Homo sapiens: one gene and its partners. Changing the gene in region 3 together with the main gene of any one other region gives a genetic interaction. Each region holds a gene or a part of one and is shown on either strand. Other genes may lie near its edges.

What was found.
Region 1: of ATG10 (region 3) and CSE1L, changing one enhances a phenotype caused by changing the other (phenotypic enhancement), as found in Homo sapiens cells (one large-scale study listed by BioGRID).
Region 2: of ATG10 (region 3) and DDX10, changing one suppresses a phenotype caused by changing the other (phenotypic suppression), as found in Homo sapiens cells (one large-scale study listed by BioGRID).
Region 4: of ATG10 (region 3) and TSR2, changing one suppresses a phenotype caused by changing the other (phenotypic suppression), as found in Homo sapiens cells (one large-scale study listed by BioGRID).
Region 5: of ATG10 (region 3) and XPO1, changing one suppresses a phenotype caused by changing the other (phenotypic suppression), as found in Homo sapiens cells (one large-scale study listed by BioGRID).
Region 6: of ATG10 (region 3) and RAB1A, changing one enhances a phenotype caused by changing the other (phenotypic enhancement), as found in Homo sapiens cells (one large-scale study listed by BioGRID).
Region 7: of ATG10 (region 3) and FBL, changing one suppresses a phenotype caused by changing the other (phenotypic suppression), as found in Homo sapiens cells (one large-scale study listed by BioGRID).

Annotation. Positions count from the first base shown.
Region 1 is NC_000020.11:49,073,812-49,077,311, reverse strand, and holds part of CSE1L (exportin-2), read right to left. Parts: intron 2,528-3,500; coding exon 2,462-2,527; intron 1,995-2,461; coding exon 1,792-1,994; intron 333-1,791; coding exon 248-332; intron 1-247. UniProt on the Homo sapiens protein: Export receptor for importin-alpha. Mediates importin-alpha re-export from the nucleus to the cytoplasm after import substrates (cargos) have been released into the nucleoplasm.
Region 2 is NC_000011.10:108,678,569-108,682,068, reverse strand, and holds part of DDX10 (probable ATP-dependent RNA helicase DDX10), read right to left. Parts: intron 2,699-3,500; coding exon 2,509-2,698; intron 1-2,508. UniProt on the Homo sapiens protein: Putative ATP-dependent RNA helicase that plays various role in innate immunity or inflammation. Plays a role in the enhancement of AIM2-induced inflammasome activation by interacting with AIM2 and stabilizing its protein level.
Region 3 is NC_000005.10:82,052,023-82,055,522, reverse strand, and holds part of ATG10 (ubiquitin-like-conjugating enzyme ATG10), read right to left. Parts: intron 292-3,500; exon of another isoform or gene 189-291; intron 1-188. UniProt on the Homo sapiens protein: E2-like enzyme involved in autophagy. Acts as an E2-like enzyme that catalyzes the conjugation of ATG12 to ATG5. ATG12 conjugation to ATG5 is required for autophagy. Likely serves as an ATG5-recognition molecule. Not involved in ATG12 conjugation to ATG3.
Region 4 is NC_000023.11:54,443,404-54,445,967, reverse strand, and holds part of TSR2 (pre-rRNA-processing protein TSR2 homolog), read right to left. Parts: coding exon 2,477-2,564; intron 1,961-2,476; coding exon 1,784-1,960; intron 1,553-1,783; coding exon 1,418-1,552; 3' UTR 1-1,417. UniProt on the Homo sapiens protein: May be involved in 20S pre-rRNA processing.
Region 5 is NC_000002.12:61,528,357-61,531,856, forward strand, and holds part of XPO1 (exportin-1), read right to left. Parts: intron 1-3,500. UniProt on the Homo sapiens protein: Mediates the nuclear export of cellular proteins (cargos) bearing a leucine-rich nuclear export signal (NES) and of RNAs.
Region 6 is NC_000002.12:65,102,607-65,106,106, forward strand, and holds part of RAB1A (ras-related protein Rab-1A), read right to left. Parts: intron 2,201-3,500; coding exon 2,128-2,200; intron 1-2,127. UniProt on the Homo sapiens protein: The small GTPases Rab are key regulators of intracellular membrane trafficking, from the formation of transport vesicles to their fusion with membranes.
Region 7 is NC_000019.10:39,839,880-39,843,379, forward strand, and holds part of FBL (rRNA 2'-O-methyltransferase fibrillarin), read right to left. Parts: intron 909-3,500; coding exon 738-908; intron 637-737; coding exon 535-636; intron 449-534; coding exon 354-448; intron 1-353.

The DNA of each region.
Region 1 (3,500 bases), on a different chromosome or scaffold from region 3:
GGTACGTGCCTGTAGTCCCAGCTGCTTGGGAAGCTGAGGCAGGAGAATCGCTTGAACCCAGGAGGCAGGAGTTGCAGTGAGCAGAGACTGTGCCACTGCACTCCAGCCTGGGTAACAGAGTAAGACACCATCTCAAAAGAAAAAAAAAAAAAAAAAAAGAACAAAAGGGAACAAGGATAGGAAGCTGTTTTTTGAATTCAGGTATAGTGTGGCAAGCTGTAAAAAAAGCAAGAATTTCACAACTCACCATTAGCTGATTTTAAATCAGGGAGGATGTGATTCACAAAGAACTCAGTTAGGTTTACAAGTTCATTTGCTTGTGTAATTCCATGCTGAAAAGCAAATTCATAACATAGTAAAATAACAAAATACCTGTATATATCTATCACATTAGAAATTCAGGCAATTTTAGAAAACCATGTTAAAATGGAGATGAACACTTCAAAATACAAATTGCTTATGTATAAAATGAGACTGTACTGGCTGTGTACAGGAGCTCACGGCTGTAATCCCAGCACTTTGGGAGGCCGAGGCGGGTAGATCACTTGAAGTCAGGAGTTCAAGACTAGCCTGGCCAACATGGCAAAACCCCGTCTCTACTAAAAACACAAAAAATTAGCCAGGTGTAGTTGCATGCACCTGTAATTCTAGCTACTCGGGAGGCTGAGGCATGAGAATTGCTTGAACCCGGGAGGCAGAGGTTGCAGTAATCTGAGATGTTGCCATTGCATTCCAGCCTGGATGACAGAGCAAGACAACGTCTCAAAAAAAAAAAAAAAAAAAAAAAAAAAGAGAGAGAGGGACACTTCAAAACATGAACTGCTTAGGCTAGGCATGGTGGCTCATGCTTGTAATCCCAGCACTTTGGGAGGCCAAGGCAGGTGGATCACCTGAGGTCAGGAGTTCAAGAACAGCCTGACCAACATGGAGAAACCCCATCTCTACTACAAATACAAAATTAGCCAGGGTGGTGGCGCATGCCTGTAATCCCAGCTACTCGGGAGGCTGAGGCAGGAGAATCACTTGAACCCGGCAAACGGAGGTTGCGGTGAGCCAAGATCGTGCCATTGCACTCCAGCCTGGGCAACAAGAGCGAAACTCCGTCTCAAAACAAAACAAAACAAAACAACAACAACAAAACACAACCTGCTTATGTATAAAATATAAAATAAGACTATACTGTCTAGGCACGGTGACTCACACCTGTATCCCAGCACTCTGGGAGGCTGAGGTGTGAGGATCACACGAGGTCAGGAATTTGAGACCATCCTGACCAATATGGTGAAACCTTGTCTCTACTAAAAATACAAAAATTAGCCAGGTGTGGTAGTGCACACTTGTAATCCCAGTTACTTGGGACGCTGAGGCAGGAGAGTCGCTCGAACTCGGGAGGTGGAGGTTGCAGTGAGCTGAGATCACGCCATTGCACTCCAGCCTGGTGACAAAGTGAGACTCCATCTCAAAAATATAAAAATGTAAAATAAGACTATACTAATAGACAATAAAGAAACTTTCCTCAATTAAAGAACAGCTAAGTTTAAGTTAAGCATATTTGATACAGCGGGTCTCAGCTAAGGTAACAAGTGTGGCCATCTATCAATTTTCTGGTCTATAAGAAACTTAAGTGCTCAATACATCAACATAAAGCCATCTTCAGAGATTATATAAATCTTAATCAGAATAGGTTATCTGGCAGAGTAAGCTCTATTATCAGAGACGTTATTTCTTTTTGACTTGTGTGGGTGTCACTGATGTCTGTTTTAGAAACAAAACCACATTAAAAATATTTACCTTCTGTGTTTGGGCTTTTGATGCCAAAGATGTCACTAGGTAGATGGCTGCATCTTTGTGTTTCCAGTTGACAGATGGATTTTTTGCGTATTCCTGCAGCATGGAATTAACATAACCAGAGAAGATTCCTGTCACAGGTCCCTCAAAAAACTTGCATAATCCTCGTACCAGATCACAAGCAGCCCTGCGTCTAGTATCAATATCTATGAAATGAAAAGAAAATATATTATGGGGAAAAAAAACAACCACCAACAAGCTGATCCAATTTATAAGAAAACAAATTGCCTGGAATAATTTGGCTACGATTGTAAAACGGAAAAAAAAGAACGAAAAACAAAGGGCCACCCAATAGCTATCAGCAACACAAACAATGAAAAAAACATTCCCGCCCCCAAGAAATACAAAATCAAAATGAAACTAAAGAGGTCACAGAATCACAGAATTTTGATAAATACTATGTAAGAACAGACAAATGATTCAACTTTTGATATTTTCATTCAGGTCATATAAGAGCTTTTTAAGACAAGTTGAAGAAAGACAACAGTTCTCAATGAAAGCCCGCTGAAAAAACACTCTTATTCTCAATCCCACTTCTCCCATTTACTAGAAAGAGAACCACCTTAAAACTGGCTTGCTAAGAGACTAGTAACTAAAAAACCAAGATACACACCAGATCCTTCCAAATCTCTCCTTATGTACTCCTCAGAATTATCTTCAAATGCTTCTTCATCAGCAGCTACAAGGAGAGATGATATTTCAGATAACACTCCAAAAGACGTCACTGTACTTTACAGCTGAGAATGCAGAAGAGTATGTAAAACTGCCTTGTTCTACAGCAAAGAATTCGTTCCCATCAGATGACTACTTCATATACTCTTAATCATTATCTAGAGCAGCAAATGCTACCCTGAAAGGTGAGGTATTAGGTAATTCACACAACTATGAGATAGGCTCACTTGTTCTAATGTGACAGTTTCCCCAGAATTGGATTATACCTGCAACTGTCAAAAATGTTAGGGATCAGTATCAGAATGCTAACTTTTAATTTCACCAAATAAGAACATTAAAATACCAACAACCTAATTTTAATCACTATTATTTCATTAAAGTCATTTCAACAACAAATAAGTAGAGTGGACAATGTCAGAAATGGCCGGCATGGTGGCTCACGCGTGTAACCTAGCACTTTGGGAGGCTGAAATGGGAGGATCGCTTGAGCCCAGGAGTTTGAGACCAGCCTGGTCAACACAGCGAGATCTCATCTCTATTTTTATCATATAAATTAAAAAAAAAAAAAAGTCTACACACACACACACACACACACACACACACACACACACACACTGCAGTTGTATGATCATGTCTCACTGCAGCCTCCACCTCCTGAGCTCAAGCAAAACTCCCACCTAAGCTGCTTGAGTACCTGGGACCACAGGCCCATGCCACCATACCCAACTAATTTATTTATTGTAGAGATAAGGTTTTGCCATTTTGGCCAGGCTGGTCTTTAACTCCTGGGCTCAAGTGTTCCTCCCACCTCAGCCTCCCAAAGTGTTGGGATTAAAGGTATGGGCCACCACACCCAGCCAGAAGATTTATCCTTTAAACATATTTTTATGAAAACACAACAGGAAATAAAATCTCACGCTATATTGTCCTTAATTTCCTTATTTTGTTCCAGATGTAATTTGAAAACCACTGATCTAATA
Region 2 (3,500 bases), on a different chromosome or scaffold from region 3:
TTTATAAAATGAAAAAACACCGGGAGTAGGGAAGTGTTTTGCTACTCGTATTACAAATAAATAATTAATTTATCTAAAGGGCTCCTCCGAGCCAATAAGAAAAAGGCAAAAAAACCAAACCAAAAAAGACAGACTGTCCACAGAAAATAAGCACATACATGCAAAAAAGAAGCATTTCATAATGATTAATGTTTCAAATTGACAATGCAATTCTAAATTTGTATATACCTAATAACATAAGCTCATGACATATCTCAAATTTGAAATTTTTCATAATCCACCATAGAATTCAACTTGTCACTGAAAAACAGCAAATTGCTATGGCCCAAAGGCATATTCTCTCAAAAATAAAATCATTAGAAATACCAGTTGTCTATATATAACCACATAATGAAAACACTAGTATACTTTTTCTAAGTATGCTCTGACTTACAACTTCAGAAAGATCTAATTTTTCTTTAGTTGTTGTGTCCTTCACAATTTGAGAGTAGATACTCTCTAACACCTTAAAATATTCTTGATTATTATCTCTCCTGGTGTATGAACCACATTGATAAGCTACTAAAGTGGAAAAGCTAACATTGACATTAGATGAAATTCCTAAGAGCATCTGCTTTTTTATGTTTCCTATAAATTTGGAATATTAGAATACTGCAGCCATTATCATATAACCTGAGGTTTTGTAAATTATGTCAATACATGTCTACCTTCCAAAATTTTTTTCTGAAAATTTTGTCCACCACACTTTTATAAGTGATGGGACCGGGTTTCAAAAATCATTTGTGAAATAATATCAAAGTCTTTGTAGTTTTTTTCTAAAACTTTGTAATTTACAGAAAATAACCAACTCTTACCTACAGAAATTGGGGATAGGAAATAATACGTACAAATTAACTTGCATAAATTATGAAAGGTCTTAGAGACATCTAATGATTAAAAAAATCTGTCTGATGAATATTAAAAATAGGCTGGAGGCAAACAGAAAAAAGAGAAAAGTGAAAAATCCTAGACAAGCAGTCTTTACATTTTCAAGTTAATTGTTAATTGTCACAAAAATTTTCATAGCTATCTCAACTCTTTAAGAGATCAATGTCCACTCGAAAGTAAGCCAAGGGAAAAAAACTATACCTCACATATCTTACTATTCCATTCCCAAGTTCTTGAAAGTCAAAGATACCAGTACTCAGATTCCCCAAGATCACCCAGAAGCAAAGAATCTGGCCTCTTCGTCTCAGGCTTTTTAAATCCTAGACATACATTATACAAGGTCAAGATGGGCCTGAATACTCATATTTTCTCTATTTAAGGAATTTCCAGATAACACAATTCATTTTCCAAATCTATTTCTTTTTAGGCTAACATTTCAGAGCAAGAAGAAATAAAAATTTTAAGATATAAATAATAGAAGAGTTGAATTTACATTGCTATCTTCAACAAAAAATCCAACTTTATATTTACTGGAAAACATTTCTCCTGGAAGTCTGCAGTGATTCATACCAAATATATATGCTTCTAATTGTCATATGAAAATACAACTTAAAACATATCCCAGCTGGGCACAGTGGCTCATGCCTGAGTGTAATCTCAACACTTTGGGAGGCCAAAGTGGGAGGATTGCTTGATCTCAGGAATTTGAAACCAGCCTGGGCAATGTAGTAAGTCTTCAACTCTACAAAAAATTTTAAAATTAGCCACGCATGGTGGTATGCCCTGGTTGTCCCAGCTACTCAGGAAGCTGAAGCAGGAGGATTGTTTGAGCCCAGAAGTTGAAGGCTGTAGTGAGCTATATTCACACAACTGCACTCCAGCCTGGGTGACAGAGCAAGACCCTGTCTCGAAAAAAAGAGATAAATAAAAATTTCCCCAACTACTTGCATATCACAAACATACATACTTTTACTGTAACACATATACTTTAAGCTCTAGTTTTTAATGAGACCAAGACAAAACAATAGTTGCTAGAATTTTAGACTGAAAGGTATTTTGCTAAATATTAATGCACTTCATAAAATGTGTTCCATAACACATTAGTACTGCATAATCCTGCTAAAAAGGATGATTCCGTACCCAAAAAATTTGGTAAATGTAGCAAGCTACATCCACCTCCCTCCCACTGCTTTCAACAATCACAATGTCCCTGAAAATATTAAAGGTTGTGAGAAATAGAAATAAAACTGTTTCACTTTGACTCACCATTTGCTATTTCATCCCTTCTCCCTTCGTTTATTAAGAGGTAGTGTTGGCAAATGGTAAAATACCTCTTAACATCTATGGAAAAACATTTGTTCCCCTCCCAGACCACATTTTGGGAAATGCTACATTCAAGTACCCTGACATTTAAAGATATATGCAGAATTTGGGTAATTTTAACTGGTATATTTACTATGCTTTGCATAACCAATAACTCATAGAATGTCTTAATTCCCAGAAAACAGATATTTAAAATACCAAATCCCTAAACTAAAAAAGTAAAAAACATTTATCTTGATTGACTCAAAGAGTACATACCTATATTTTGCTTTTTCATGAACCCAGACATACTCAGGGTTTTTCAAACTCAAGCGTGCAAGGTCCTTTACAGATTTAGTTTGTGTTGCTGAGAAAAGTAAAGTCTGACGTTTCTTGGGGAGATTTTCAATAACAGCATTCATGGTATCAGCAAAGCCCATATCCAAGATTCTATCTGCTTCATCAAGAACTGAAAAAGGAAAATGCAAGTTGAACTATCATATGTAAAATATACATTAGGCTAAATGCAATGGGTATCCTGGATTGGATCCTAAAACAGAAAAAGAACATTAGCGGAAAAACTGGTAAAACCTGAATAAAGTCTGGAATTTATATGATGTAGCAATGTTAACCTTAGTTTTGATAAAAGTACCATGTCATGTAAGACATTAACACCAGGGGAAGGCTGGGCACAGTGGCTCAGGCCTGTAATCCCAGCACTTTGGGAGGCCAAGGTGGGCAGATCACAAGGTCAAGAGGTCAAGACCATCCTGGCCAACATTGTGAAACCCCGCCTCTACTAAAAATACAAAAATTAGCTGGGCGTGGTGGTGCACACCTGTAGTCCCAGCTATCGGGAGGCTGAGGCAGGAGAATCACTTGAACCCATGAGCCGAGATCATGCCACCGTACTCCAGCCTAGCAACAGAGCGAAACTCTGTATAAAAAAAAAAAAAAAAAAAAAAAAAATTAGGGGAAACCAGCTGAAGGATAATGCAGGAACTCTCCACTGCAACTTTCCTACAAATCAAAAATGTTCAAAGATAAAGTTGATTTAAAAATACACATCAGGTAGTATTCCCAAGCAAAAAAGAAAAAGTTCATTTAAAAAAATGCCAATTTGACCTTTCAAGTTATTAGAAGCAGGTGTTAAAAACCTTGGCATGGTCTAATACTAACGTGCCTAATTTCACATATAAGCGTACATACATTCTTCTGATTTTTTTAAGTCTACTTTTACTTTCTGGGTTTAGAGCCCAAATGCCAAAATG
Region 3 (3,500 bases):
ATAAAATTTAGTAAAATTCTAATAACAATGCAAAATACATCTCCTTTGACATTAAAAGAGGTGAGTCAAAAATTCGTGTGCACCTATGTTATAAAATCTAAATAAATTATCTGGTCTCTTTCCCAATTAGTTAAGATAAAGAGATATGTCACTTTCAATAATACTTATAATTTGAGGAATTTACTTACATTTTAGGTAATTTCTAATACCATTTTTTTATTATCGATACGGAAGTACGCTGGGTTTTTTGCTCTATATTTGGTAGTGGTGATTTTTTTTCAGTATCAATCTTCTCAGTCAAGATTAGCCTTGAAAAATTAAATATAGAGTTTTTTGGATTTTGATTTCCCTTTAAAGACTTCCACAGAACTAGATGTTTCTTCTACTTTGTTTTAATTTAAGGCAGAAAAATATGTTTTGTGCTTCACTGTTGAAGGATGCTTTTTTAGAGACAAGCAAACTCAAAAGCAGGAGAACCACCACTCTTGTCAGCCCTGCAGTCCACCCAGCCCAGGAAAAAACGATGTCAACTCAAATTCCCCCTTGGCAATGAAGTTTTCCTGACCATTCCAATTAACACTCCTCTCTAGCTTCCCTGCATTCTTTTTGTACTTATCATAGCTTACACTTGAACATTTAACTCTTCTTTAATTTTTTAACATTTGTTAGTTTTATTTCTCCCACTAGATCATAAGCTCAGGGCCTAGGCCTCCATCCTCTAAGGGATGACAAGGTCTTTACAGGATCCAGATTCCATCCCACATAACAACCTGATCCAGAAAGAGTCTGAAAACATCCTGGACAAGCATGAGAGGATTTAAAAACAAAGGGAACCTTCAAGTTTATCCAATTCAAGCCTCTCATTTTAGAGATAAGAGGGTGAAGGACTAAAGCACTTCTAAGAAACTTGTCTTACACTAATTAGTTGGAGGCAGAGCAGGAAGTGGAAAGCGGATCTCTTGACCTGAGTATTCTTTGTAGTACACTAAGCAAATTCTGCAAGAGAGCAGGACCATGGCTTATTGACTCTCGTGGACTGGTGTGGGCCAGTGCTTTGCACTTCAAGTAACAAACTCAAGCCACTCAAGTGTGGTCTGGGGACCAGCCACAGCATAAGCTGCGAGCTCATTAAGACAGACAGGCAGAATCTCAAGCCTCACCCCAGACCTCCTGATTCTGCATTTAAAACATAATCCCCAGGTGATATGTATGCACATTTTGGAAGCACTGAGGCATGTACTGCAATCCCTGACTCAAAGAGACAGCAAACTGACTACATTAACAATGGTTCTCAATCCAAGCTGCACATTAGAACCACCTGTGGAGTTTTCAAACTGTTGCTGGTGTCTCACCTCAGACCAATTAAGTCAGAATCTACCTAGCAGATTCCAGCACAGCAGCCAGAGTTGAGAACCACTGCACTCAATTCCTTGGAGACCCTCTTTTGAACTCAATGAACAGAGTCAATCAGGTAATCTGCAGCTACCTCAGGAGAGAAGTCCACAAACAACTCAAGATCTTCATGAACACCATAGCTCATCTGGAGTTCTCCAAATGCTAAAATCACCTCTGTTAATGCTCTCTTCTTGGAGCTTTGACCATGCTGAGACTGCCTTTGAAGTGGTCTTTACTACTGCCCGAAAAACTAATTTCTGGCAACTTGGCCAGTCTTGACCTGGCCCTCTGAAACTGCCAGTAGTCTTGTAACTTAAAATTGCTCCAAGTCCAACTACACTTCAGCTATTAGGTCTCCTTGCTGTCCATTCACCACAAAGCATGATGCTTCACTCTGTCACTGTAGAAGAATAATTAATAAGAAATGTCCAGCTGTTATAACCCAAACAACTTTCATTATAAAGAGAATACTTCCTCACAGCCAAAACTCTTCCAGTTATCTAAATAGAATGCCCTTCACCTAAGACCAAAATAAGAAATATTTAAATGAGAAAAAAACCCCAAATATGCTAGATGAAAATATAGGAGAACACATATTTTTTAATATGATAAAAACCCAGAAGTCATAAAAGACTGGTAAATTCTACGGCATGCAACGAATTCTTAACACCATAAAGTCAAAAGACATATCAAAATGTGAAAAAGCATTTGTAGCTCATATCATAGAAAAGAACTAATTTTTTCAATATAAAATAGCTTTAATTTCCTCAAAATATAAATAGTTCCACCAAATCAACAGGAAGGGGTCCAATAGCCCAATAAGAAAATGAGCAAAGGATACACAGATAGTTTACTAAAGAGGAAATACATGTAGATAAAAATATGTTCAATGTTAGCCATAAGAAAAATGCAAATTAAAAACTGTGATAACATTTTTTACCTATCAGATTGGCAAAGATCAAAAAGTATGAAAGGGAATGTATAGACAAAGACATGGATAAAACAAGCAGGCACTCTCATACATTGCTGGGGCAGGGGAGTTAAAATTAGCATAAGATCCCTGAAGAGCAGGTTGGCAAAAACTATCAAAATTTAAAATGCACACACCTTGGATCCAGAAATGTTACTTCTAATAATTTACCTTATGGATATAGTCACATATGTAGTAAATAAAATTCATACAAATGATTATTAACATATTATTTTAATAGTATAAGGTTGGAAACAACCTAAATTTCCATCAGTGAAGATTGGCTAAATAAATTATTTTATGTCCAAATAATGGGATAGTATGTAACCACAAAAATAATGAATGAGTTCTGTAAATATTGAGTAATGACCAAGGCTGACCATTAAGTTATTTTTTAAAGCGCAGAACAGTATGAATATATGCATGCTACCATATGTTTAAATGTAACTGTACAGGCTATGTGTACACTGAATATATCCGGAAAGATACCCAAGACCATGGTATCACTGGCAACCTCTAAAGGTTTGAGTAAGGAAAGTAGAAGGGTTAGAAAGGAGACTTAACTTTTTAATGTAAAACCTCTTTTGTGCCTATAAATACATGGCACTTCATTTTAAACAAATAATTAATTGCCCTTTGCACATATGCCTCCAGGCCACCACATTGCCAGAGTAGATTCCAATCTTAAACTTCTAAGGAGAAAATGTCCTATAGGTCTTATAGAATCCAAGAGAGACAAGCAAGTTTTCTAGTGTAGTGCCGATTGCATTTTGGATGGAGATCTAAGGATTTCCTGATAGAACACGTTTGGGTCTGTTTTAGTACAAGCTGTCATAGGGCTATGCCACCCAGCAAGCTATGTTATGCCTGCTGGAATCCAGCTAACAAAATAATTATAGGGCTTTTGTTGCTGAGTTTAACAAGATCTTCTCTAGACACATCTAAAAGAAAATGGGTGGTTATCTAAGGGTCTAAGCTCTACTTCAGAATAAGGCATTTTATATACGACTTCAACTCAAGTTAACTGCCCAGAATGATCAACTGCAGGAAGGGCTTGACAAGTCCATAAAGGAGGAAGACAACTGAAGTTTCTAGGTCAATGCCAGCACTGATCAAACAAGGCCTTCAAGGTCAG
Region 4 (2,564 bases), on a different chromosome or scaffold from region 3:
GGTTTTTTAATTCATCTTTTCACAAAACGTGGGCTTTTAAAAAATATATTCCTACAGTGATGTCAATTTTTATTAATCCCTGTCCCCAGGGAGGGTGGGAGCCGTTGCCAGTCCTACCTGAATTAGGTCGTTTTTCTCCCTCATCCCTCAATACCCTACCACAGATCCTGCCTCCACCCAGTTCCCCACAAAGCACCAGAGGTAGGAGACCTGGATTCAAGTGCCAGCTCTGCCACTGACCCTGGGGCCCCGACCCAGCCCTGCCTCCTCAGCCAGTGTCTTCACACGTACAACTCCACGTGGGGTGGCAACTAGACCTCTCCTGCCTCTCCCATGGCTTACAGCTTCTACCCGGCCCCAAGGCTACCCAGTATTTTATCGTCCAGACCCATGGCAGGGCCAGCGGGCAGGACAGGGAAACAGGGGGGAGGACAATGGATACTCAGTTTTTTGTGTTTTTTTGTGTGTTTTTTTTTTTTTAAGAAAAATACAGTTTATTTCAGGCTTACAGTAACTTTCATAGCACTGCTGTGCTCCGTTCGTTCATCTGTTTGGTTGTCCAAAGTACCAGGCTGCTAGGGTGGGCCCAGAAACTGCTCCCTTGTAAACTCTGAAGCTGAGCTCCCAGAAGGCTGATTCTAAGGCTACTACTCACAGGTCAAGCCACAGATTAAGCAGTAAGGTATTATTTATTAAGATCTTAAGCCTCACCCCTGAACTCAAATGGGATGGGATAAGGAGTAAGGAAAGAGGTTAGAGGAGACAGAAAACAAAGCCCAGCTCTTCCAAGCTCACCACCTAGCCAAGGTCTTCGAATTCCTGAGGGAACCCAGGACTGGAGGCTGGGCTGAAGGAAGGCAGCATTCCTGGGAGGTTCCAAGTTCTGGGCAGGGGTACAGAGCTGTTGCGTGTGTGTGGGGTGGGGTAAGGGAGAGGCTCCAGAGCTACTTTCATTCACATTTTCAACTATTCTCTCTTCCACTTGCATGTTCATCTCACCATTCCTGACCCAGCCAGCCCCCTATCACTGAGTACTGCTGCTGCTGCTGATCCTCTCCTCCCCAAATCCACCTGCCCACTGTCCACCGGCATCTAGCTCCTCCTCCAGCCACACCCACACTCACTCATCCCCTTCCTCACAATGACCGCACCCAAAAGACACTGTACTGGGGAACCCGGCTTCGTCACTCGGATGTTAACTAAAGGCCCAGGGGAATATGCTGGAAAAGGTCCCCCCACCCCCAAGACCAAGGACCCTAGGTTTTCCTTGCCCTGGAGGGAGCCAGACAGAGGAACAGGGGAGAGGGTGGAGATGGGGTAACCAGTCCACAGGTCTGCAATCCTCAAAAAAAAAACCCCTACAGACAACTCTTAGAACAGCAAATAAGGGCCCAAAGCCATTTCCAATCATCCCCACTCATTTTTTTCTCCGGACAATGGTCCAGCCATCTTCCACTATATCCTCTTCCTTAATAGTCTGAGCGTCTGGATCAGAGGGTTCAGGCTGGGGGCAGACCCCATCTGTAGCAGCCCCATCATTCGTAGCTGTGACCTGGAGGGGAGATTTAAAAGAGAGCTGAATACACTGACCACTGGAGACCCAGGCTCTGCTCCAGCTTTTCCAGGATTGGCTGTGTAACTTTAGGAAAGTTCCCTGCCCTCTCTGGATAATACTACTACCACCAACCACCACCATCCCCTTATCACTTCCCTGTGAATCTAGCTGCTCTTCCAGAAAATTGAAAACATCTGTATCCCCCAACCCAGGGGGCACCCACTTCACCTCCATCTCTTCCACACTGTCCACATCATCTTCATCCTCATCAGTCTCTCTAGCTGTCTTAAGTGCAGTGGCTGTGACCTTGCATTTTCTCTGAGTGATGCAGGAGGCCATCTCCCTCAGAGCAGCCCCATCACCCCTCTGGAAGTGGTGGAACATGGTCTGCAGTTGCTGGCTCACCTACCAAGAAAATATTCAACCAGTTTGGATTTTCCAGATATCTACTATACAAACAGCACGTGTTTGAAGCAACAGTGGGGAGTAGGTTGGATTTTTCCAGAAGAGAACAGAGCTCTTTCCTCCCCAAGGAATTAACCAATGAAGCAACCACATATGAAGGGCTCAAATGAAGGCCTAAAGCATCAAAAGAGAGCCTAACTAGCAGGGAATCCTCTAGAACTGGGCTTTGAAAGAAATAAGATGTAAAAGGGAAGGTAATCTTATTGGGGAGCAATGGTAACCAGAGCGGGGGTGAAAATGGACCTGGACTGGCCTGACCTGCCCTTGGGATGGGGCTGAGGAACAGGCCTGGATGGGAATGATGTATAGAAATAAAGAAAAGGCAGGGTTTGGAAAGGCTACACTTTTTCCTCTAGGCAACAGAGTCATAGTCAAGAGTCTTGGCCCAAAACAGACAGCTGGGGAGAAGAAAGACTACAGGTAGGGAGACTGCAGTTGTGCCCGTGATAAGCTCACCTGGGGCAGACTCCCGTCTTCCACAACTGTATCAAACTCGTTGGTCAACAGCTCTCCAAGGAAGTCTTCCACCTCATCTAGCTCCAAG
Region 5 (3,500 bases), on a different chromosome or scaffold from region 3:
GGGCACGGTGGCTTACGCCTGTAATCCTGGCACTATGGGAGGCCGAGGTGAGCAGATCACAAGGTCAGGAGTTCAAGACCATCCTGACCAATATGGCGAAACCCCATCTCTACTAAAAATACAAAAACTAGCCGGGAATGGTGGCGTGCGCCTATAGTCCCAGCTACTCGGGAGGCTGAGGCAGGAGAATCGCTTGAATCCAGGAGCGGAGGTTGCAGTGAGCCAAGATTCCCCAAGAATCAGGAAGATTGCCCCAGTGCACTCCAACCTGGGTTGACTGCGTGAGACTCCCTCTCAAAAAAAAAAAAAAAATCTTTCCTGCAATTAGTTTTTTTCATTTGACAGTTTTTAAGATCCAGCCATGTCGACATTTTATTTATATATATATATATATATATATATATATATATATATATATATATATAGTTTTTTCATTTCAATAAGTTTTTCATACATTAATATTTTTACCAACAGCTTTTAATTCTATTGACAAAAAGCAATGGCTTAATCTTTTTCACTTTTGTATCTTTAAAGGTTGTTTTATAACTCAATTAGATCCTTCCTATTTCTTTTACCTATTTCTATTAAAAGTTGTAAGCAAAAAGTTTGGACCAGGTGTGGTGGCTCATGTCTGTAATCCCAGGAGTTCAAGACCAGCCTGGGCAACAAAGAAAAATTAATAATGAGCCAGGTGTGGTGGGACACGCACTTATGGTCCCAGCTACTCAGGAGGCTGAGGTGGGAAGATTGAGCCTGGGAAGTCAAGGCTGCAGTGAGCTGTGATCAAGCCATTGTGCTCCAGCCTGTGTGACAGAGCAAGAAAAAAGTTTGATGACTTTAAAATCTGTCAGTTATCTTTCTCTTATACTTTACTTTATCATGGGTTTAATTCTATGGTTATAAACAATAAAGCATCAAAAACAGGGTAGGAAGCACTCTCACAACCATTTCTGACAAAGATACCTTATAATCTTTAGCTTGGCTTTTATTCTAGTCTTTTTTAAAACAATCGTATGCTCGGGTGGGCACCGTGGCTCACGCCTGTAATCCCAACACTTTGGGTGGCCAAGGTGGGTGGATCACGAGGTCAGAAGTTCAAGACCAGCCTGGCCAACATGGTGAAACCCCGTCTCTACTAAAAATTCAAAAATTAGCTGGGCATGGTGGGGCGTACTTGTAATCCCAGTTACTCAGGAGGCTGAGGCAGGAGAATTGCTTGAACCAGGACCCGGAAGGCGGAGGTTGCAGTGATTTGAGATCACACCACTGCACTCCAGCCTGGGCTACAGAGTGAGACTCTGTCTCATTACAAAAAAAAAAAAAAAGAAAGAAATTATATGCTTATCCTGGCTTTGATGCTTTATTTTAATCATGACCTTTTCCTCAGGTAGGAAATACAATACCACATTCATGACTATCCCATACATCAATCAGGAAAACACACTGCTACACACTCAATAACTTATATGGTTGTTCTCTACCCAGAAACCCACCAGAACCACTGTGGTTGCCTGAAAAGATCAGACGCCTGCTTCCATTGTGAGTCTGTGGTTACAAGAGTTAATGTGTATACTTTAAAATACAATCATACACATTTCTATTTGATTTCATTAAAGGACTGATGGGCATAATGTGTCATATGAGAAATGACAGAAGGCCGAAAGAATAATGATGTGGCTTATCTAGGGCCAAAGCACATTTTAGCAGTGTTTTGGTCTTCTCCCTGAGAATATCTAGCTAGATAACCTTATCTAACTAGAGGAAAAGTTGTATCAAAGATCCTCACACAGTAAAAGTTACTTGGTCAAGTTACCATTTTGTCAGATGCTTTGAAGTGATAAGCATTCTACACAGAATCAAATACTTCCCACACTATCACCACTCACATCAATCGCTACATAAATAATATTCTTTCCTGTTAGTTGTAATTTTACTCTCTGATGCTACTTCTAGTATTTGCATTCTGATTTATTCTAATCCCACCATTCTTACATAATGTTCTTTATAAACTTAAAACCCCAGCAGGGGTTTAAAAAAAAAAGACACAAAAGCAAACTAAAGAGAGAAAACCTAGCATCTCCCTTGTACTACTAACTGAATGGTGAAAGCATTTTAGTTGCTAAGCAATAGAGTTCAAGATCTTTAACAGAACACAATATTGGAGAAAACATCCAACTCTTCCCGCATCTTTTTTCTAGCTGTCTACTTGGCTAAAAATAGAAAAATGCTGATAACAGAGGGTAGAGGGTAGTCCTAATGTTACACTGCTAAATATCCTACTATACTAACCATGTATGCAGAAGTTCTGTCTACAGATTAAAAGTCACCCTTGTAAATAATTTCTTCCCCTCCCCCAAGTTACACATTCCTTTAAAAAAAAAAAAACCTACCTACAGCTTTTTTTCCCAGTTGACTTTAAAAGCTTAATTAGCATAATAAATTTTTCTTGTCATTAGTGCATATTTTATGAGTAGCAAAAAAAAAATTTTTTTAATTTTAAGCAATGAGTATCACATATGCTAAATCATTTTCATTATACTGCTAAATGTACCCTTTAAGCTGAGTGCCTTCTACCTATCAAGCACTGTAATAGGTGCTTTTAAACCTCATAACTAACCCTCCAATCTCTTGTAGGACAGGTCATATTTGTACATGGGACTTAAGCAATGACTAGAGAGAGCTTCCAAGAATCAAATTAAGACGTCTAACACTAAAAATCATGTTTTCCACTATAGCAGCTCGCTGCTACTACTACTCCTTTTCCTTTGAAATAAGACCCCCAAGGAGGTGGTAAACGAAAAGTAGACTGAACTAACGACATAGGACTTTTAGAGACCAAAAGGACTCCTTAACCAGCTTTAAGCTCTAAATCTTGTTTCTTCATTTATAATACAAAATAAGTTTGCTAGTTATTTCTACGCAACTGATTTTGTCACATGATCTATTAACTACTGCAGACAAAATCCTTTTACTTTGGGAAAGTTAACCTATTGTCCTTACAAACAAAAAAATTTAGAAACACTTTTCTTAATCTACTTTTTATTAACAAGTCAATTTTAAAACAAACCATTAAATTTCTTAATACTATGAAACATTATTAAAAGCAGTATTGCTGTAATATATTCTCAATTACAAAAATTGCCACTAATTCTGTTACAAGCCATGAAGAACACTGCTCTATGTTGGTTTATTTATCATACCTTTAGATGTAGTGAACTAGTTTAGTGTGAAGATTAAACAGTATTAGTAGCTGAATCTATGCGGAAAAAATTAAATGCCCTTTTTCCCAATGGCTACAGACCTGTGCTTCCAATATTACATTCAGAGTTGAACCCAACCTTACTTTCATAGCTTCCTCCAAAAGCAGCTGCTTTCTATGCATCCATGCTAGAAGAAATGAAGCTTAAAGCTTCATGTTGAATGTATAGCATGAGTAACAACTAAATGACAGGGATAATAAATACGGATGGTTAATTTTTTCAAGAATGCTTTAGGAGATA
Region 6 (3,500 bases), on a different chromosome or scaffold from region 3:
TGTTAGCTGTTCTTTCAAGTTAAAAAAAAAAAAAAAAATGTCCAGGTGCAGTAGTTCACGCCTGTAATCCCAGCACTTTGGGAGGCTGAGACAAGCGGATCACGAAGTCAGGAGTTCGAGACCAGCCTGGCCAACATGGTGAAACCCCATCTCTACTAAAAATACAAAAACTAGCTGGGCTTGGTGGCAGGTGCCTATAATCCCAGCTACTTGGGAGGCTACGGCAGAAGAATTGCTTGAACCCGAGAAGCGGAGGTTGCAGTGAGCCGAGATTGTGCCACTGCACTCCAGCCTGGGCAACAAAGCAATATTCCATCTCAAAAAAAAAAAAAGAAATGGTGTTCCACAGAAAAAAATAAAGCAGTTAGCTCAGCTTACAACTCAAAAAACTACAAATGCTTTTCTTTTCTCCAAAATAACCAACACACTAGCCAGTATGCAGTAAAAAGTGCTTTCTCCAGCACTTTGGGAGGCTGAGGCACATGCATCGCTTGAGCTCAGAAGTTTGAGAGCAGCCTGTGCAACACAGTGAGACCTTGTCACTACAAAAAAATACAAAAATCAGCCAGGCATGATGGCGCATCCACTTGGGAGGTCCCAGCCACTTGGGAGGCTGAAGTGGGAGAACAGCTTGAGCCTGGGAGCCAGACGCCACTGCACTCTAGCCTTGGCAACACAGCCAGAATCTGTCTCAAAAAAAAAAAAAAACATTGTTTTATGTGAACTTCCCATTTCTTCACAAATATTTTTAAAGGAATACTCATGGATCAACATTTTTCAAAAATTAATCATTTTAACTGTTTTGTCAAGGACAATCTTCAATAAAAATGGCACGGCTTGTTTTTGTTCCTGTGAGGGCACAGAGGTAAAGAATGCCATCACCATGAGTACAATTTGGAGCTTAGCGCTGCCTTGATGTGTACCAAGCCAGCAGCAATTTTACCCACATGCTTTTGTACCAGAGCCAATGTCATCACTGAAAAACGCAAACATCTTTTATATTAGTATTATTACCAAGTAAATATTTCCTTACAAATACTAACATCTTAGTATTATTAGGATATTTTGACCTCATGGGCTACCTGAGAGGGTCTTGGTAACCCCCAGGAGTCTTTGGTCCATGCTCTGAGAAACAATGATCTCTAGAAGGGAAACATGCTAATTTGTTTTTTTATTTTTTTTCTTTTTTTTTTGAGACAGTCTTGCTCTGTTGCCAGGCTGGAGTGCAGTGGCACCATCTCAGCTCACTGCAACCTCCGCCTCCTGGGTTCAAGCGATTCTCCTGCCTCAGCCTCCCGAGTAGCTGGGACTACAGGCGTGTGGCACCACACCCAGCTAATTTTTTGTATTTTTAGTAGAGACGGGGTTTCACCGTGTTAGCCAGGATGGTCTCGATCTCTTGACCTTGTGATCCGCCCGTCTCGGCCTCCCAAAGTGCTGGGATTACAGGCGTGAGCCACCGCACCTGGCCAGGAAACATGCTAAATTTAAAGGTAGTTGATAAAGACTATGAAGGACACTGTGGATTCTGTTAAGTCAAAAGTCCTTTATCTGTCAGCTTCAGCATTTAGAACTATGCCATTGGCCAACGAAGTTTGTCCAAGACCCTACTTTTTCTTTTATTAACTTTTTTTTTCAGAGACAGAGTCATGCTATGTTGTCCAGGTTGGTCTCAAAACTCCTAGACTCAAGTGATCCTTCCACCCTCAGCACCCTGAGTAGCTGAGACTGCAGGCATGATCCACTGCGTCACCTGGCTCTGCTTTTTCTTCTTATTCTACTAAAGTTTAATTTAAAGATTTATTTTCATCAAGTCGCTTTCAACACAGGCCACCAACTACCCCTTTAACTTGCTGCCTATATTGGAACTGCTGTTTGACTCTGACCAAAAGTATTAGACATTCTGACTTTATAACCATACTTCACTGAATTTCTTTTAAGAGCAACAATATTTTTCTATTTAACAGTCCAAGATACCACTGGGGATGTATATTTGGAGTCTTTAAATATATAAATTCTGGAAGAATTAACTTATTCTGAATAAAACTGTTTAATTTTATCTACCTAGAAAACATACATAGCATTAATTGTACCATTAATTGTAAAGACATTTCAATTTCAACTTACTGCAAACCTAAGAAGAAGGCAAGACTTTCCAACCCCTGAGTCGCCAATCAGAAGTAACTTGAATAAATAATCACTGCAAAAAGAAAAAGAAAATGATGTTAATAAAAAGCACACTGCATTGCTATAAGCTATACAAAAACAAAAACACAGCTACAAATAACAACTCACTGTGAAGACTACATCTCCTATAAAGCCCATGCATGGCTTAAGCCAAAACTGCAAACAGCCACAGCCCTTCTGACAGATCACTAAACATGATAAAATTATGTAAAAAGTAGGCAATGCCACCTATGATCTCTAACATCAGTGAACTTCCACTTAAAAAGAAAGAAGGAAAAGAAAAATAAGTGATACGCACTCTTGGACTGCCCAAGATACTTAAAACATTCTAAATAAATCCCACTCCTCTATAGTATTAGAATACAGAAAGGTAACTTTTCATTGTTTTTGCCCATGAAATATTAGTCTCTCCTTCAAATTCTAAGATCAGGCCAGGCGCAGTGGCTCACACCTGTAATCCCAACACTTTGGGAGGCTGAGGCAGGCAGTTCACTTGAGGTCAGGAGTTCAAGACCAGCCTGACCAACATGGTGAAACCCCGTCTCCATTAAAAATACAAAAATTAGCTGGGCATGGTTGCGCATGCCTGTAATCCCAGCTACCTGGTAGGCTGAGGCAGAAGAATTGCTTGAACCCAGGAGGCAGAGGTTGCAGTGAGCCGAGATCGTGCCACTGCATTCCAGCTCCAGCCTGGGCAATAAGAACGAAACTCTGTCTCAAAAAAAAAAAAAAAAAAAAAAAAAAAAATTCCAAGATCAAATAATTTCATAGCACTCCTCCAATGAAGGGGTTCTCACGATCCTTCTCTAGCATCCAGCTTGAATTCTCCCGTCAAAACAATGTTCATATAACTTCTGAAAGCCCATATTATAAACTAGAAATGTGATAAATTCACAGGCTGTTTATCCAAGTGCAAAACTTGACTAACACTCTACACTTGTATTAAAGCATTTTTCAGAACCATTGAAAACCAAGCTTTTTTTTTTTGAGACGGAGTCTTGCTCTGTCACCCAGGCTGGAGTGCAGTGGCGCGATCTCGGCTCACTGCAACCTCCAACTCCCTGGTTCAAGTGATTCTCCTGCCTCAGCCTCCCGAGTAGCTGGGATTATAGGCATGCGCCACCACGCCCAGCTAATTTTTGTATTTTTAGTAGACACGGGTTTCACCGTGTTGGCCAGGATGGTCTCGATCTCCTGACCTCATGATCTGCCCGCCTCAGCCTCCCAAAGTGCTGGAATTACAGGTGTGAGCCACCGCACCCAGTGATAAAACAAGGCTCTCTTTATGTATCTCTAACATTGCCAGGCCTAAC
Region 7 (3,500 bases), on a different chromosome or scaffold from region 3:
CTGGAGAAGCAGATGATAAGGACGCAGCCTCCCACAGAGCTGGGAGTGGGAACAGCAAGGCCAGGGTGGCTGGAGGACACTTGGTCAGAGAGTTAGTGAAGGAGACAAAGCCAGGGGGCAGGGAGGGGGAACTGGAATGCACAGGGTCTTGGAGGCCTGAGTGAAGACTCAGGAGTCTAACTGGAAGGCCGTGGGGAGTCACAGAAGGCGGATGAGGGAGCAGACAGTGTGGTTTACATATTATGACAATCCTCCAGCTGTCACGTGCAGGACACATGGTGAGGGCAGACACAGACTACTGGCTACACCCTCAGCTGCGACCCTGGTGGCTTGGACAGGGGCCCAGTTCTCACCGAAATCGAGACTCTCTTCTCTCCATAAACTGATTCCCCAGGGACCAGGTTCTTGGTGACCAGTGCATCTTCCTTTCCTCGACAAATGAAGACACCTGGGTGAGGGGATCAGAGCAGGGGTGAGGACCCCCAGCCTCTCCCTGCCCCGAAGCTCAGCCGGCTCCCTGCCTTCCTCACTCACCCTCATGCCGATGCGGCTCCACCATCACATTCTTCCCCGACTGGTTTCCTCTTTTTCCTCCCCGACCACGACCCCGGTTGCCACCAGAATGGAAGCCTCCACCTATAAAGGAGAGGTACAACAGGAGAGAAAGATCCTGAATCTCCGCCCTCCCCACTCCCCACCTCAGGAAGGCCTCCTCTGTAACCCCTAGCCAATCTTACCACCTCTTCCTCCTCCTCCACCGCCGCCGCCGCCTCCACCTCCTCCTCGTCCACGACCTCTAAAGCCTCCGCCTCGACCTCGGCCCCCGCCAAAGCCCCCTCGGCCTCCACGACCACCACGGTCACCAAAGCCCCCTCGGCCGCCAAAGCCACCCCCACGGGGACTGAATCCTGTGGGGGAAACAAAACAGGAGTCAGGGCAATGAAGCTTAAAAGGTTAAACCACCTTGTACCCAGCAATACCTCTCAGGTGAGAAACCTGAAATACATGTGCCCGTGTACAGCAGGACACATTTCCAAGAATGTCCACAGCAAAAGAAAAGTGAAGACTAACCCAAATGTCCATCAATAGAATGGGCAAATAAAATAGAAGACATTCACAATCAAGATCATGAAAATGACCTTCAGTTATACACAACAGACTAATAAATGTTAAAATCATAATAATTTTTTTTGCTTAGTGCTTTTTTTTTGAGACAGGGTCTTGCTGTGCCGCCCAGGTTGGAGAGCAATGGCACAATCACAGCTCACCGCAGCCTCGAACTCCTGGGCTCAAGCAATTCTCCTGCCTCGGTCTCTGAAGTAGCTAGATTACAGGTGTGTGCCACTACTCCCATAGTGTAGAGATGGGGGTCTCACTATGTTGCCCAGGCTAGTCTCCAGCTCCTGGCTCAAGTGATCCTCCTGCCTTGGCCTCCTGAAGTGCTGGGATTACAGGTGTCAGGCACCACACCCAGCCACAATCATACTGCCCAAGAAAAGGAGCAAGGGAATGAGAAATGTAAAACTCATGATATTGGTGAATGGGAAGGAGATATTAATATGGGGTTGGGATAGGGGAGGAGTACATGAATAGATGTAGGTTACTGTTAATATCCTGGTTTCCTTGGTTGCATAGCAGATTCACAGAATTCATTCCATGTCAATATTAATTACTGTGAAGAGTGAGCCCTGCATACGAGCACATGCTGTGACAACAGGGCCCCCTAGACTCTGCAAACGTCTTCATACTCTCCCACTCCTGACCTTGGAGCTGGAAGAAAAGTGTCAACCCCAGCCCCAAAACAGAGGGGAATACAGGATGATGTCAGCCCTAACTCATCTCCCTGCTTCCAAGCTTAAAGAAGTCCCTCTCAGCTCAGGGGAAAAACAAGAAAAAGCAGAACAAACTGTCATTTAAGGATAGGCTGCACTTTACAAGTAGTTTGCGACTTGTCAGTAAGATCGAAATGTTTAAGAAATAACAGACTCAGACAGGCTTTATTCTTACCAGTTCAGGACAACAAACACCATTAGCACAAAACAACGTTTAAAACAGAACTCTGGTGCTAACAGATTCAATATTTTCTCTGATTTGGTTTCAAAAACTCAGAAGTACTAAATCACACAAGTTAAAAAAAATAGTTGGAAAACTAGTGGTTTAAAATTATCTCACATTCTCACATGATGTAATCTATTCAATCATAAGCTTGCTTTTTTTTTTTTTTGAGACGGAGTCTCACTCTGTCACCCAGGCTGGAGTGCAGTGACACGATCTCGGCTCACTGCAAGCTCCACCTCCCAGGTTCACGCCTTTCTCCTGCCTCAGCCTCCCCAGTAGCTGGGACTACAGGCGCCCACCACCATGCCCGGCTAATTTTTTTGTATTTTTAGTAGAGAAGGGGTTTCACCGTGTTAGCCAGGATGGTCTCAATCTCCTGACCTCTTGATCCGCCCGCCTCAGCCTCCCAAAGTGCTGGGATTACAGGCGTGAGCCAGCGCGCCCAGCCTTGCTCATGTTTTTTGTAAAGATACATTATGATCTTGTCCTACGAACCCTTCATGCACCTTAATGGTATTAAAGATAAAAAATGTGTCTTTTAACAGCCATTCCTAATTTAATCTTTAAAAATGAACGGTTTCATTTTCAAAACTCCCAAACAACCAAAAGTTGTTTACTTTTAATCTTCTACTCCCTCTACAGTCCACTTTTCACACAGCAGCTAATACATGCTATTTTTAAAACAGCAAGTAAGATCTCATCATGCCCTTGCCCAAATCCCTCCAATGGTTTTCCACCACATCCAAAATGAAATAAAAAGTCCTTTCCCTGGCTTACAAAGCCTGAAATCAAAGCCTAAAATCTTTAGGCTTTAAATTCTGATTTCATTGTTCTGGGCGCAAGGTCTTCCCCTAAAGCTCTCCAGGTGACTCCAAGGTGCAGCCCACATTGAGTATCATCATCCTAAGGATCTGGCCTGTGCTGACTTCCCTGACTTCATTCTCTTTATGCTGGGCCCCATGCTCTTCCCCACCAAGCATACACAGTCCAGCTTCTAAATCTTTACCACGTGCTGTTCCCACTGCCTGGCTCCTGCAGACATGTGCATGGCTCACTCGCTCCTTCACTGCATTCTGGTCTCTGATAAAATGTTAGTTCCCCAGAAGGGCCTACTTTGGCCACAGTACCCTTACCCTGCTTTATTTCCCTTCAAATCAATTATCACACATGGCATTTTTAATATTATTACCACCTGCCTCCCCCACTAAGATCAAGCTCCAAATGGGCAGGGATTTTTAACTGTTTTGGTCACCACCGCATCCCCAAAACCCTGCACAACATCTGGCACAAAGTATGGGCTCAATAAATGTTAAATGAGCACTGAGCTGATGACTCTTAAACCCTGGGCCCTGCCTCAAGGAGAAAGCACCCTCTATTTGTTCAGAAAGCACACAATCCATCAGATGGTGACCAGGGAAGTGCCGGTCACTCCCCTCAAGTAT